Homo sapiens: one gene and its partners. The protein of the gene in region 1 purifies or fractionates together with the protein of each later gene. This does not show direct contact. Each region holds a gene or a part of one and is shown in the gene's direction. Other genes may lie near its edges.

Region 1 (5,257 bases):
TAGGGTCTCACTCTGTTGCCCAGGCTGGAGTGCAGTGGTGCAATCTCAGCTCACTGCAGCCTCAGCCTCCTGGGCTCAAGCAGGAGCCTCTTGAGTAGCTGGGGCCACCAGTAGTGTGCGCCACCATGCCCAGCTAATTGGCTAATTTTTTTTGGTAGAGACAAGGTTTCGCCATGTAGCCCAGGCTGGTCTTGAACTCCTAGGCTCAAGTGATCCTCCTGCCTCGGCCTCCCAAAGTGCTGGGATTACAGGCATGAGCCACCGTGCCCGGCCTCAAATGTTCCTCTTTATCCTGGTTGTCAGCATGTTGATATTTTGCCTAGGAGTGGAGTGGTTTTTCTCTACGCTTATGTCACTCCCCAAGATGAGCGAAATTTTAGCTATTGTTTCATTAACTTTTTTTCTGTCTTGTTTTTTTCTTTTCCTGCTGGGACTCTACTTCCGTTTATGATAGTTTTTTTATATTGTTCATAGATCTCTGGGGATATTCATTCTTTTTCAATCTTTTTTTCTTTTCATCTCCTTGAACATAGTTGTAGCAGCTACTTTGAAATCCTTGTTATCTTGAAGTTGACCTCTGTTGTCTTTTAAGAATGGATCACATTTTCCTGATTCTTCGTATGTCTAGTAATTTTAGATTTTATCCTTGACATTGTAAATATTACATTGTAGAGAGACTTAGGATTCTGTTATGGTTTATCTGTAAAGTGATGATTTTTTTTTTTTTGAGACGGAGTTTCACTCTTGTTGCCCAGGCTGGAGTGCAGTGGCACAATCTCGGCTCACTGCAACCTCTGCCTCTCGGGTTCAAGCGATTCTCCTGCCTCAGCCTCCCGAGTAGCAGGGATTACAGGCATGCACCACTGCACCTGGCCAATTTTTTGTATTTTTAGTAGAAACGGGGTTTCACCATGTTAGCCTGGCTGGTCTCAAACTCCTGACCTCAGGTGATCCGCCCACCTCGGCCTCCCAAAGTGCTGGGATTACAGGCATGAGCCACTGCGCCTGGCCAAGTGTTGCTGTTTTTAACAGGCAGGTAAATTGTTTGAACTCAAACCCAGGTAGCAGTTCAGATCTCAGTTCTGGTTTTGCATTCGTAGCTGACTTTGTCGCATTCCTGTGTGGTTTGGGAGTTAGTCAGATTTGGGCAGAGTTTATACACAGCCTTTGAGCACTTTTTCACAGGCCCCTTACTTTGTGGGATTGCTTCCTCACTTTCCAATGGCTGTGATTTCCTTGAACTCTTGTCTTTTAGTTCTTCAGGCCAGAAAGATTGGATTTCCCCTTGGAGTTTTAGCCACCCCATGTGGTTATGATTTTGGCCTGCTCCAGGATAAGAGCTACTTCTTTTTTTTTTTTTTTTTTTTTTTTTGGAGATGGAGTCTTGCTTTGTAGCCCAGGCTGGAGTGCAGTGGCACAGTCTCAGCTCACTGCCACCTCCGCCTTCCAGGTTCAAGCACTTCTGCCTCAGCCTCCCAAGAAGGTGGGACTACAGGCGCATGCCGCCACGCCTGGCTAATTTTTGTATTTTAGTAGAGACAGGGTTTCACTGTGTTTCCCAGGCTGGTCTTGAACTCCTGAGCTCAGGCAATCCACCTGCCTCGGCCTCCCAAAATGCTGGGATTACAGATGTGAGCCACAAAAGCTACCTTTTTTAAAAAAGGTAACTTAGCCTTTGCCATTGCTATTCTTCTTTGTGTTTACTCCTCCAAAGAATCTAACTGCGTTTGTTCATTCTCTGGTGCCTTCAGGTCTTCTTGAAATATTTGTGTTAAGACTTATCTGCAGGAGGGTTGGGTATGGCAGGCGTTTACTTGTCATACTAAAAGTGAAACTATGCATTACCTTTTTTAATGGTTCCTTTATGTTGCATATTAGTTTACTAAAGCTTGATTTTTTTTTTTTTTTTTTTTTTACCATTTTTTCCTCATACAATCTTCCTGTGTGTCCACAAGAGGGCAAGGCGTGGCAAGCAGAGGGGTCCCAGCTTGTAGAAAAGGGCCCCAGCCTGTAGAAAAGGGTCCCAGCCTGTAGAAAGGGGCTCTGCTGAAAAGCAGTCTGGAGATTGTTATTGCTATTTGGATCTTTCCTTGCTTTGCTTTCCTTTAATGACTGTGTTTTTTGCAATCCACAAACATTTACTGAGTACTCACTATGGGTCAGGTACCTTCTAGCTAAGCACCACTGGGGGATGTAGAGATTAGTAAGACAATTTCTTTTTTCTTTCGAGTCTCGCTCTGTCACCCAGGCTGGCAGTGGCATGATTTCAGCTCACTGCAACCTCCGCCTCCAGGGTTCAAGTGATTCTTCTGCCTCAGCCTCCCGAGTAGCTGGGATTACAGGTGTGCGCCACGACACCCAGCTAATTTTTGTATTTTTTTAGTAGGGATGGGGTTTCGCCATGTTGGCCAGGCTGGTCTTGAACTCCTGGCCTCAGATGATCTACCCACCTCAGCTTCCCAAAGTGCTAGGATTATAGGTGTGAGCCACTGTGCCCCGCCAAGTAAGACAACTTCATGGGAAACTGCAAAAGGGCAATTATGATACAGGTTTGCTGGTGACCAGTTCTTCATGAGGGACCATCTATCACAACAGAGAAAGCACTTGGATCCACCGGGGGCTGCCAGGGGAAGCAGCATGGGAGCCTGAACCATGAAGCAGGAAGCACCTGTCTGTAGGGGGAAGTGATGGAAGGACATGGGCACAGAAGGGTGTAGGTTTTGTGTCTGGGGGACACTGGGAGTGGCTCCTGGCATTGAAACAGGTGTGTAGAAGGATGTGGTGGGACCTACAGACTGGAATCTAAGGGACACTTGAATCCCAGTGTGACCATGGTCTTTAAGAACAGGTTGGGGCCAGGCGCAGTGGCTTATGCCTGTAATCCCAGCACTTTGGGAGGCTGAGGAGGGCAGATTGCTTAAGTCCAGGGGAGACATAGGGAGACCTCATCTCTTTAAAGAAAAAAAAAAGGTTGGGAAGCTCCTCCGTGCTGCTCTGAAGGTGGAAACTGGTGGGAGTGGGAGGGAGGCCAGTGAGGAAGTGGCCCTGGCAGGCAGGCCCCAGAGGCTTCCACAAGTGTGGGAACCCAAAGGAAGGGGAGATTGGGAAGTGATTTGTAAACAGAATGAACACAGTTGGGTGTGAGAGCCGAGGACACAGAGTGAGTCAGAGTGAACTGGAGGCTTTTGGCCTTGGTGACCAGATAAGCCTGGGGGAGGAAAAAGAGTAATATTCTTGTGAGAGTGGGGGACCAGTATATAATGTGTTTGACCTGATCGAGTTCATAGCCAGTGTGCTAGGATGCTCTGGAGTTGTCCAGCAGGCTCTGGTGAGAGCAAACTGCTCACGGTCATTTGAAGTCCGCTCAGAACTCCAGGCAAGCAGGGGCCTGGAGGATGTGTCGTCCACACACCTGCTCTCCAGCCACCTGTGCTCAAATCAGATCAGCTGGCCAGGGAGCTTGTTCTCTCTCCCCCCACCCTACCCCCCCGCCACCACCCCCAGTGAGACGAAGTCTCACTCTGTCTCCCAGGCTGGAGTGCAGTGGCACAATCTTGGCTCACTGCAGCCTCCACCTCCTGGGTTCAAGCAATTCTCCTGCCTCAGCCTCAGCCTCCCGAGTAGCTGGGATTACAGGTGCCAGCCACCACACCCAGCTCATTTGTGTATTTTTAGTAGAGATGGGGTTTCGCTGTGTTGGCCAGGCTGGTCTCAAACTCCTGACCTCAAGTGATCCACCCACCTTGGCCTCCCAAAATGCTGGAATTACAGGTGTGAGCCACCACACCCGGCCAGAGGGCTTTTCTTTATGCTGCTATGAAGCCGTCCTCAGAGAACTTCACCACCGGCCTGCGGCCATCCCATCTGACAAGACGGAAAACCACTGGATTCAGGAGCCTCCTTTCCCTGTTCTTGTCTCCCGCTGTCACACACCCCAGCTGCCCCTGACAGCAGCGTGCCCTTTCTGTTGTTTGGCTTTATTTCTGTGACTTTCCCCTTCCTCTGTACTCCGAGATGGCCCTCTGGATTCTTGGGTATCTTTTTTTTTTTAACTTCAGTTTGGGATCCTTTATGATTGGATAAACCAGAGTTCATTTGAGCAAAATGGGAATTCATTTGATTGAGTTTCCTTGGGCAGGGTTCTTAACATAGAGGTCTGTGGGGAGAATGGTAGAATTAAGAGAGAGGGAAAACATTTTGAACTGTTTGGTCACTGTATGCTGTAGACCCATGTTTTATGCATTGAAAAACACTGTTCAGAGAAGGGGTCCAAAGCACATAAGGCGTGAAGAAGCCCTCCCTGGTGCCGAGGTTGGAGACAGGAAAACTGGAAGGAGACCTATGGCTTTAGGCAGTTGCTAAAACCCTCTGCTTTCCCTGTAGCCACCTTGACAGCACTGCGGCCAGGAGGAAGGGGAGAGTTGGCTTGGTGGGGTACCTAGGGAACTTTGAGCAGAGACAAGTGGCCCAGCTTCAGAGCTTAGTGCCCAGAGGAGTGACCAGGCCTGGCTTAGCTCTGTGGTGACCCAGGAGGTGCTCTGGAGCTGCCGGAGGGCCTGTGGAGCACTGCAGTCTCCACACAGCAAGTCCCCAGGCAGGTTAATATCCTTTGCAAGGCTGCAGGTAAGTGGGGATACTTCCTATCCTGCTTGGAAATCAGAATCCCAGCTGTGTGTGACCTGAGACAAATCACTCAACCTCTCCCAGCCTCAGCTGCCCCACCTAGAATGTGAGGCTGACCTACCTCTGGCGTAAGGGTGGTAAGGATGGAGGCAGGCAGTGGCCCAGTTTGGACCCCTCATTTTCCCACCAGCCTCTTGACTTTTTCTTTCTGCTTTTCAGGAAAAAAGCCTGTAAATACTTTGAGCAAGGCAAGGGGACCTGCCCATTTGGAAGCAAATGTCTTTATCGCCATGCTTACCCCGATGGGCGGCTAGCAGAGCCTGAGAAACCTCGGAAACAGCTCAGTTCTCAAGGCACTGTGAGGGTAAGGACTTTAGCCATCTCTAGTTGGGGACACTTAGCAGCTGTGGGCATTTCCAGGTACCGTTCCTGGCAGAGAAATGGGGTAGGCAAAAGAACGATCAAGGAACGCAGCCTTCCTGTTGCTCTTAGCAGTAACCAGGCATGTCCACTGGCTGTTTTTGCAGTTCTTTAATTCAGTGCGGCTCTGGGATTTCATCGAGAACCGAGAAAGCCGGCATGTCCCCAACAATGAAGATGTCGACATGACAGAGCTCGGGGACCTCTTCATGCA
Region 2 (5,257 bases), about 190 Mb from region 1:
GCGTGTGCCACCAAGGCTGGCTAATTTTTGTGTTTTTAGTAGAGACGGGGTTTTACCATGTTACCCAGGCTGGTCTCAAACTCCTGACCTCAAGTGATCCACTCACCTCAACCTCCCAAAGTGCTGGGATTACAGGTGTGAGCCATAATGCCTGGCCTCTATGGTTTATGTTAATACATAATGGTTTCTGAGTGAGGAAGGAAGAGAAAGCTGGAGGAGGAGATGTTATTTTTCAAACCTTTCTCTTTATTTTTGGTCTTCAGTTTATTTTACGTCTTCAGTTTGGCCTATGTGTGGTTTTTCTTTGTACTAATCCTATAAATTGTAAAGTTATGTTTTCACCAAATATAGGAAATAGCACTAAAAATGTGATTATTAATGTCTTCAGAAGATATATGGGATATTAGAGGATTGAATATTTGGAAGATAAAGTGGTTTGAAATTAACACGTGGTTATGTGCTATGCTTCGGAGGGAGGTATTTGTTAATCAAATCTCAGTAGCTTCATGTTAATAAGCAAATAATTCAGAGTTGTTTGTTTCTTGCACCTCATGTTTGCAGCCTATGAATTTAACTATTTTTGCTTATTTTTCCTCAAGATGTTTGAAAGTAGTTAAATGGCTTAGCATGGCCTATGTGTTTTTGTTGCAGAAATAACATTCCAGCTAATTTTACCAGGAGTGGAAATAAATTAAATCATCAGAAAGATACTCGTCAGGCAACTTTTCTTTTCAGAAGAGGCCTGAAGGTATTTAAAAACTTTGGCAGTGTTTTTGTTTGTTTGTTTGTTTTTTCCCAAAGAGGATCCTGAGCAGCCACCTTTAGTAAGCCTCAGTCATAGGCAGCATTGGGTTCAGGATGTGAGGCACGTGGTAGTAGATTAGTTCTTCCTGTTGTATGTTTTTTATTTCCCATCTTTTCTTACCCTCAATAGCAATGTCTTATAAGAATTTAACTCGTTATTTGGGAATAAACCTGTATTTGCCACTCGTTCTCATGTAGGAATTCCAACAGGGAACTGTTGCCAGAATAGCGTGGGCCCCTCTGCTGCACTCACGCACACACCCCACTGGGTTAGGAAGTTCTAGAATAGCACGGGCCCCTCCGCTGCACTCACGCACACGCCCCACTGGGTTAGGAAGTTCTAGAATAGCGCGGGCCCCTCCGCAGCACTCACGCACACGCCCCACTGGGTTAGGAATTTCTAGAATAGCGCGGGCCCCTCCGCTGCACTCACGCACACGCCCCACTGGGTTAGGAAGTTGTAGAATAGCGCAGGCACCTCCGCTGCACTCATGTACACGCACCACTGGGTTAGGAAGTTCCAGAGCAGGATCGCTCTTTGGATTCAAATCCTCTGCTTTCTGTGGTACCTACTGCTTTTTTTTTCCCTTCAGGTGCAGGCCCAGTTGAATACAGAACAACTGCTAGACGATGTAGTAGCAAAGAGAACTCGTCAGTAAGTTTCCATTTGTTTTTTAAGATGTTATTTCAAAACTCCCAGAATACTAACTACCCAAATTATCATGTACCTCAGTCCAGAAGAAATTAATTGAAACCCAAAATAAAATTCAGTCTGAAAGCTGGGCATAGTGGTGCTACACACCTGTAATCCCAGCTAGTTGGGAGACTGAAGCAAGAGAATTGATGGAGCCCAAGAGTTCAAGGCTGTGAAGTGCCATAATGTCACCTGTGTATCGCCACTGCACACCAGCCTGAGCAGCATAGCTCGATGCCACTGCACACCAGCCTGAGCAGCATAACTTGATTGCCACTGCACACCAGCCTGAGCAGCATAGCTCGATGACCAGTGCACACCATCCTGAGCAGCATAGCTCGATGACCAGTGCACACCAGCCTGAGCAGCATAGCTCGATGACCAGTGCACACCATCCTGAGCAGCATAGCTCGATCGCCAGTGCATACCATCCTGAGCAGCATAGCTCGATCGCCAGTGCACACCAGCCTGAGCAGCATAGCTCGATCGCCAGTGCACACCAGCCTGAGCAGCATAGCTCGATGGCCAGTGCACACCATCCTGAGCAGCATAGCTCGATCGCCAGTGCATACCATCCTGAGCAGCATAGCTCGATGGCCAGTGCACACCAGCCTGAGCAGCATAGCTCGGGCTATGGAGACTGTCTCCAAAAAAATTTTTAAACATTGAGGCTAAAATAAATAAATCTTGTTTTGTCCTTTGTTAATTTTCCCCAAAAACCTTTTGAGTTTTCATGTGTCGATATTGTAACAGTTTTAGTGCCACGTAGATTACTTCATTTTTATTATTTTTATTTTTTATTGGCTATACCATTTTAATGAAACAGCTTTTTCTTTTTCTTTTTTTTGCTATAACTGCTTTCATACAAATGAACCTATTTAGGGAATGAATAGAATAAAATTCAGTGGAGCTTTTAGAACATTTGTACAACTTTAAAAACAATAGTTTTCCTTTTCACAGTCTTTTTTTCTTAGCCCTATAAAAAATCTTTTGAAAACCTATTTTATCCTGTTATAATCACACCTCCTAAGTGTGAGTTGTAACATACTAATTCCATCAGTGTGATTAGGTTTTGAGATTAAACTATTTAAAATTATGACTACTTTTTGGAAAATAAAATATATACACTTGGCCCTCTGTGTCTCAAGGGAATTGTTGCCAGGCCCATTGAAGAGATTAAAATCCTCAGATACTCAAGTCCCTTTCAGTCGGCCCTCCATATCCGCGGATTGTCTCTGTGTCTCAGGGGAATTGGTTCCAGGCCCACTGAAGAGATTAAAATCCTCAGATACTCAAGTCCCTTACAATCGGCCCTCCATATCCGTGGATTGTTTTCATTCTGCGGTTGCAACTGATTGAATACATGGACGTAGAACCTGTGGATACAGAGAGCTGGCTGTAAAACATGGTCAGGGCCCAGATATGGTGCCAACTGTGGTGCATGATTTTTAGCAATTGGAGTGTTAGGAAACTGTGAAACTGATACAGGTGGTATTCTTTAGCACAGGGGTCATGACATTAGAAACCATGGGGAAAGAAATAATAATTGTAGCCTTTTTGCTTCTGCAGTGAACAATATTTACATAATTGTGATCATATAAATGTTATTTGTTTTGAACTTTGAGAATCAACCTGTTAGACAAAGCACAAAATAGTTAATTTGAGAACAATATAATGTAAATGTCCGATTTTGACTAATGTGAATATAAAGGAAGAGCTGACAGAAAGTGAGAGGTACAAACAAAGGAGCAGAGGTGGAGGGAAGGAATAGAGGCACTATTATCCTTTCACATAAAGCTGGGGGTGGGTTCAAGAGATTCTGCTGAAAGAAACAGAGATTTAAGTATTTTCAGTTACAAAGGCCTGGAAATAGTGATACAGCCATCAAAATGTTTCATGGTGGGTAAGGAAACTGGAGGATAGTTTGACGAACTAAATCTTTATTCATCATAGCAATTTTTTTTTTTTTTTTTTGAGATGGAGTCTCGCTCTGTTGCCCAGGCTGGAGCGCAGTGGCACAATCTCAGTTCACTGCAACCTCCCCCTCCCGGGTTCAAGCAGTTCTCTGCCTCAGCCTCCTGAGTAGCTGGGATTACAAATACCCACCACCACACCCCACGCCCAGCTTAAATTTGTTTTTTTTTTTTTTTTTTTTGGTAGAGATGGGGTTTCACTATCTTAGCCAGGCTGGTCTTGAACTCCTGACCTCATGATCCACCTGCCTCTGCCTCCCAAAGTGCTGGGATTACAGGTGTGAGCCAGTGCCCGGCTGCAGCAAGGTTTTTTTTTTACTATGTAAGCATCTTGTTTAGTGAATTGGAAGTAACCAGAAAGCAGTAAAAACAGGTTAAAAGTGCTGCCTCTGGAGAGTAGGAATAGAAAGCAGGAGAATAGTGGGGTGAGGGACTGTTGCTTTTTATTAGAAGTTCTTTTGTACTATTTGATTTTTTTAAATTTGTATACATTTATTACACTGAAAAATATTTAATAAATTAATTCAGATGCCCAGTTCCGCACCCAAGATGTTGATTTATTATATCATGGTGGGGTTCAGGTACTTATTTCTTACAAGCTAAGAAAAAGTAATGGCTACTTTTAATGTTCATTTTTATTTTGAATATACATAGGGTTTATCAACTTACATTTAATGAATTTTTTTTATTTTTTTTGAAACTAGATGGCGGACTTCCACCACAAATGGAGGGATTTTGACTGTATCTATTGACAATCCTGGAGCAGTGCAATGCCCAGTGTAAGTTGTTTCTTTCTTTTTGCAAAAATTATAACCTCTCATTACATGAGATCATAAGAAAGTATTGGACTTCTGCTCAGAGAATGATGTCCAAGTTGGGATGAACCAGGAAGACAGTAATACCTGTGATACAATATGGAAACAGTATATGGTGTAAAGTAAAGTAAGAGCTTTCTTGATTCCTGATTCTGCAGCCCTAAATGACCACGTTGGAACAGTGTTTTTTATGTTTTAAAAATTATGTGCATGTATACTCTGTGTACCCTTTTTTTGGAGGCAAGGTCTGGCTCTGTTACCCAGGCTGGAGTGCAGTGCCATGATCATGGCTTATTGCAGTCTTGACCTCCCAAGCTCAAGCGATCCTCCTGCCTCAGCCTCCCGAGTCCTGAGGAGCTGCAGCGACAGTTGCCCACCACCATGTCTGGCTTTTTTGTTTGTTTGTGCCCAGACTGGTCTTGAACTCCTAGACTTAAGCAGTCCTCTTGCCTTGGCCTCCCAAAATGCTAAGGTTACAGGTGTGAGCCACTGCACCTGACCCAATATATATATTTTTGTGTACAATAATAAACGAGATGATGGTATACATGCTACTTCTCCTAATCCCTGTAATGTTTTCGATGTCTTTATTTTTCAGACCATACAGACCTACGTTCTCTTTAAATTTATTGCTTTATAAACTTTGTCAATTTATGGAGCTTATGTTCTATTCAACCATCTCTTGATTTTTTTAAGAGATAACGTCTCACTCTGATGCCCAGGCTAGAGTGCAGTGGTGCCACCATAGCTCACTGCTGCCTCGAACTCCTGGGCTCCAATAATTCTCCTGCCTCAGCCTCCTGAGTAGCTGGGAACATAGGCATGCACCACCACACCCAGCTAATTTTTTTTTTGTACAGATGGGGGTCTTGCTGTGTTCCTTAGGCTGGTCTCTAACCCCTGGCCTCAAGCGATCCTTGTGCCTTGGCCTCCCAAAGTACCGGGATTATAGGCCCGAGCCACAGTGCCTA
Region 3 (5,257 bases), on another chromosome or scaffold:
TTTTGGCTGTTTTTAAATGGCTTGATATATTTTTATTACCTGTTAGATTTACCTTCTATGATGGTCCTCCTTTTGCAACTGGACTGCCTCACTATGGACATATACTTGCGGGTACAATTAAAGATATAGTTACAAGATATGCTCACCAGAGTGGGTTTCATGTTGACAGAAGATTTGGATGGGATTGCCATGGCTTACCTGTGGTATGTTTGAGTATCCAGCTTTATAATTTTCTGATTTTTTTTATAAGCATTAGATTTTGTCATATAATATGTTCAAGTATGATGAACGTTGACTGTCAGACCTTCTAGTTCATTTCTATAATATTTGTAGTTTGATTTGTTTTGTTTTCTAGAGTTGCATAGTTGCAGTTGTTTTCATAGGGCAGCGTGGTAACAGTCTTATCACAAATTTTCAGGAATATGAAATTGATAAGACACTGGGAATCAGAGGACCAGAGGATGTGGCCAAAATGGGGATTACAGAGTATAACAATCAGTGCCGAGCAATTGTGATGAGATATTCTGCTGAGTGGAAGGTATGTTGGGTTTTTTTCAGTAGAATGAACAGCAAATGTAGTTACTAAATGGGCATTGAAATGGTTTATGGTCCCTTGTGCTTTTTTTATTAATTTATTTTTTGTAGAAAAAGTGTTAGCTTCCACCTTCAACCCTATTACTTAAACGGTTAGCTTAAACTGAACCATCTCTCTTCTGACTTCTGTGTGCTTAATTGGTCTAACTTTCTTGCATGATCACCAATAGGGAAAAATTCTAATAAGTATAACATGATATATAGGCCTTTTCTTTTTTTCTCAAATACTTTTTTCAATTTTTTTAACTTTTCATTTTGAAATAATTTGACTTATTAAACAATTGAAAAAGTAGTATGATGGGTTCCCCTATATCCTTCATCCATCTTTCCCAGCTGCTAACATCTTCGGTAACCATAATATTAATAGAATTTTCAAAAGCAGTTGCCCCATTAATTTTTATTTCTGACCAATCACATATTGCATTTGGTTGTCATGTCTTTTTAGTCTTCTTAAGTATGGAACATTTATTTAGTCCTTTGTATTTCATGGCCTTCTCACTTTTGAAGATTGCAGAACAGCTATTTTCTATAATGTCTCTCAATGTGTGAGGTTTCCTGATTTAATTTAGGTTATGCATTTTTGGTGACAATGCCACAGAAGTGATGCTATGCCCTTCTCAATGCATTATATCAGGTGGCATGTGTTGCGGCTATGTCACATTGATGGTGATAACTTTGTTCACTTGGTTAAAGTGCTGTCAGCTTTCTGCTTTGTAAAGTTGTAGTTTTTCCTTTGTAATTAATAAGTATCTTGTGGGGAGATTCTTTCCAAATATTCTTTTTTTTGTCATACATTCACTTATTAATTTTAACATCCATGGATGGTTTTTGCCAGTAATAATTATGCCTGTGATATTTGCCAAGTGGTGGTTTTGGTAGACTTTTATAAGTGAATATTTATACTTGTAAATAACATTTTGTGCATGTAGGATGAATGCCGAGAAAACTGGTTCTTAACCTTACATAATATGTTGTTGGCAGTATAGATTTACTTGTACCATTGATTATTCTGTTTTCCCAAAATTTTCATTTGTGATGACAACAGAAATAAACACACATTGATGTACAATTATAAATATCATTGTCTAATACTGTTCTAATATTAATATTTTAAAGTCTACTGTTAGCAGACTTGGCCGATGGATTGACTTTGACAATGACTATAAAACTCTGTATCCACAATTCATGGAATCAGTCTGGTAGGTTTATTTAAAATTGTAAATATGGTAAATATTCTATTCTGTTGTATTGATAATTGGAAAAATGCACTAGCATGAATCAGTTTATTTTTGAGTCCATCGTTATTTCTCTGAAAATCTTTGGGAACAGGTTTGTTTTTGAATGTAGAACTTTTATTTTTATTTTTTTGAGACTGAGTCTCGCTCAGTTGCCCAGGCTGGAGGGCAGTGGCACAGTCTTGGCCCACTGCAACCTCCGCCTCTCAGGTTCAAGCGATTCTCTTGCTTCAGCCTCCCAAGTAGCTGGGATTACAGGCGCCCGCCACCATGCTTGGCTAATTTTTGTCTTTTTAGTAGAGATGGGGTTTCACCTTGTTGGCCAGGGTGGTCTCGAACTTCTGACCTAGGTGATCCATCCACCTTGATCTCTCAAAGTGCTACGATTACAGACGTGAGCCACTGCGCCCAGCCTGCCAGTTGCTTTTCTTAACATTATGTGTTAAATATCATTCGATATCAGTAGATATTAGCATTTTAATGTCTGCCTGATGTCTTACTATATTGATCTGTTATAATTTACCAGCCAGTCTCCCAATGAAAGACATTGTTTTTTCACTTATTTGGCAGACAGAAACTCTAAAAAGAAAATGGCATAAATGTTTGCATTTTCAGAAATAGAATTTTGTTCTGTAATTGTGAAACTCCATCTCTTACCAGGTGGGTCTTCAAACAACTCTATGATAAAGGCCTTGTTTATAGAGGTGTGAAAGTCATGCCCTTCTCTACGGCATGTAACACTCCACTTTCCAACTTCGAGTCACACCAGAATTATAAGGTACGTGAAATGTAGAGACATTATTCAGCATTGAGTTTTGTAGGTGGAAGCTGAGTAGTTATGATCACAGTAGGTATTCCCAAGTAGACCCAGTGTGGAATGTTGCCCACGACATCCACCACTTTGACCACTTCTTACTGAGTGCTGGAAATATTGCCAGTTAGTATACTAAGGCTCTGTTAAGATGAGGGATTTTTTTTCCACATTGGATTTATGATGTGTCTTAATGTGATAGGTTTTGCTTGTTTTGACCATATTTTTGTGCCTCTCTGTTGGGTTAACAAGTCCAGCTTTGACATACTTCCTGTAGTCATCGTTTCTTAAGGGTTGAGTAATTTTATGCCTTATCTGGGACCTCATGATATCATTTATTTGTTAACGGTATTTGGAAAAAAATTAATTTGAGATGCCAAATGGTATTATTTTTCCTCTGATGAGATAGAATCAGTTGTTGTTGTTGCTATGATTGAGGTGTTTAGACATGTTTGATGTTTACAGAGTGTATTGTTATACCATATCTAGACAGATATTATATACTAGTAAGTCTTCTGAAATGTGAACCATCTCTTCTCGTGTGTATACTGAGTTGTTTTCAGTTTTGAGAGTTTATCTGACCCTCTGTTTTTAAAGGATGTTGACTTGTTTGGAATTCTTGTTTCATGGCCTAGGTTTGAAAATTACATTAGTAAAATTTGCCTTTCAAAGCACGTTTTATTTATAGAATGCTTTCACATATCCTGTTTGATTGATCTTTGTAAATCCTTGTAAGGCAGGTATGATGATTTCTATTATCTCCTTACCACCTCTCTGTGCTCATGTTTGTATTTTTTTAGTAAAATATTTTAAGCACTTAACAATGTAGAGAATGATATGGTAAACACAAGGTTTCCAAGGCTTACCTTTGTCAAATCTTAATATATTGCTATATTTGGTTTTTGTTTGTTTGTTTGTTTGAGTCAGAGTCTTGCTCTGTCGCCCAGGCTAGAGTGCAGTGGCGCGATCTTGGCTCCCTGCAACCTCCACCTACCCGATTCAAGCAGTTCTTTGCCTCAGCCTCTGGAGTAGCTGGGTTTACAGGTGCCCACCACCACGCATTTTTAGTAGAGACAGGGTTTCACCATTTTGGCCAGGCTGGTCTTGAACTCCTGACCTTGCGATCCACCCACCTTGGCCTCCCAAAGTGTTGGAATTACAGTTGTGAGCCATTGCGCCCGGCCTGTTTGGTTGTTTTTTAAAACACTTGAATGTGGACAGTTTCAGGGACATGCAAAAGTAAACAGAATGGTATAATTAATTTCTGTAGGCCCATTAAGGCCCCCAGCACCAATGACTGGCTAATCTTGCCTCATTCATACACATATTCTTTCCCACTTTCCTTCCAATTCTGAAACAAATTCCAGATATCATATTATTTCATCAAGAAATAATCCAGTATAGATCTTTCATAAATAATCTTTATCTTCTTTAAACATTGCCATGTTAGCATTCGTTGTCACACCTTAAAAAGTCATCAGCAGTTACCTTTTTGTTGTTGTTGTTGTTTTTGAGATAGGATCTCGCTATGTCACCCAGGCTAGAGTGCAGTGGCACGATCTCGGCTAACCACAGCCTTGACCTCCCGGGCTCAAGTGATCTCCCCTTTCAGCCCCCTGAGTAGCTGGGACTACAGGAACATACCACCATACCTGGCTAATTTATGTGTTTCTATAGGAGTGGTTTCACCATGTTGCCTGGGCTGGTCTTGAACTCTTGGGCTCAAGCAGTCCACCCGCCTTGGCCTCCCAAAGTGCTGGGATTACAGGTGTCAGCCACTGCACCTAGCCACCTTTAATAGTTTTTATTTTAATATTCTCAAATTATGTAATTCCTGAACATCATCAGTTCATATTTCTAATGGTTTAATCATTTCCCAAGGGGTTATATTTTATTTTTATTTATTTATTTTTTTAAATCAGGATCTACCAAGACTTAAACACATGGTGACTGTTGTCTTTTAGGTCTTGTACACGTTTCAGTTGGTTATATAACAAGTAGTGGAATTATCGAGTCAGAGTATACTTTGTTTTAATTTTTATTTTTTTGAGACGGAGTCTCACTCTGATGCCCAGGCTGAAGTACAGTGGTGTGATCTTGGCTCATTGCACCCTCCTCCCAGGTTCAAGCAATTCTCCTGCCTCAGCCTCCCGAGTAGCTGGGATTACGGGTGCCCGCCAGCATGCCCAGCTAAGTTTTGTATTTTTAGTAGAGACAGGGTTTCGCCATGTTGGCCAGGCTGGTCTTGAACTCCTTACCTCAGTTGATCCACCTGCCTCAGCCTCCCAAAGTGCGGGTATTTTTACAGGCGTGAGCCACCACGCCCAGGTGAGTCACAGAGTATACTTAATTTTTAGTTCTAATACTGAGGTTGGGAAACTTTCCTCTGCAAATTAAATATTTTAGGCTTTTCAGGCAAAGTGTTCTCAATTTTGTCACCATTCTTAACTCACCCACTGTATGAAACAAGTGATGAGCCAGATTTGGCCCAGGGGCCATGGTTTGCTGACCTCTATTCTACGCGGTCTGTATATTGATTGTTAACCAAGGGTTTTTAAAATTTTTTTGACTTGACCAAGCACAGTGGCTCACACCTGAAATCCTCGCACTTTTGGAG

The links. The genes of interacting proteins can lie anywhere in the genome.
Region 2: the proteins of MKRN2 (region 1) and FYTTD1 purify together in Homo sapiens (affinity purification with mass spectrometry, with the first as the bait; one large-scale study listed by BioGRID). This does not show direct contact.
Region 3: the proteins of MKRN2 (region 1) and IARS1 purify together in Homo sapiens (affinity purification with mass spectrometry, with the first as the bait; one large-scale study listed by BioGRID). This does not show direct contact.

Annotation. Positions count from the first base shown.
Region 1 is NC_000003.12:12,576,966-12,582,222, forward strand, and holds part of MKRN2 (E3 ubiquitin-protein ligase makorin-2), read left to right. Parts: intron 1-4,842; coding exon 4,843-4,987; intron 4,988-5,150; coding exon 5,151-5,257. UniProt on the Homo sapiens protein: E3 ubiquitin ligase catalyzing the covalent attachment of ubiquitin moieties onto substrate proteins.
Region 2 is NC_000003.12:197,772,752-197,778,008, forward strand, and holds part of FYTTD1 (UAP56-interacting factor), read left to right. Parts: intron 1-651; coding exon 652-748; intron 749-1,397; coding exon 1,398-1,459; intron 1,460-4,175; coding exon 4,176-4,250; intron 4,251-5,257. UniProt on the Homo sapiens protein: Required for mRNA export from the nucleus to the cytoplasm. Acts as an adapter that uses the DDX39B/UAP56-NFX1 pathway to ensure efficient mRNA export and delivering to the nuclear pore.
Region 3 is NC_000009.12:92,283,072-92,288,328, reverse strand, and holds part of IARS1 (isoleucine--tRNA ligase, cytoplasmic), read left to right. Parts: intron 1-46; coding exon 47-203; intron 204-355; coding exon of another isoform or gene 356-418; coding exon 419-538; intron 539-1,710; coding exon 1,711-1,793; intron 1,794-2,489; coding exon 2,490-2,607; intron 2,608-5,257. UniProt on the Homo sapiens protein: Catalyzes the specific attachment of an amino acid to its cognate tRNA in a 2 step reaction: the amino acid (AA) is first activated by ATP to form AA-AMP and then transferred to the acceptor end of the tRNA.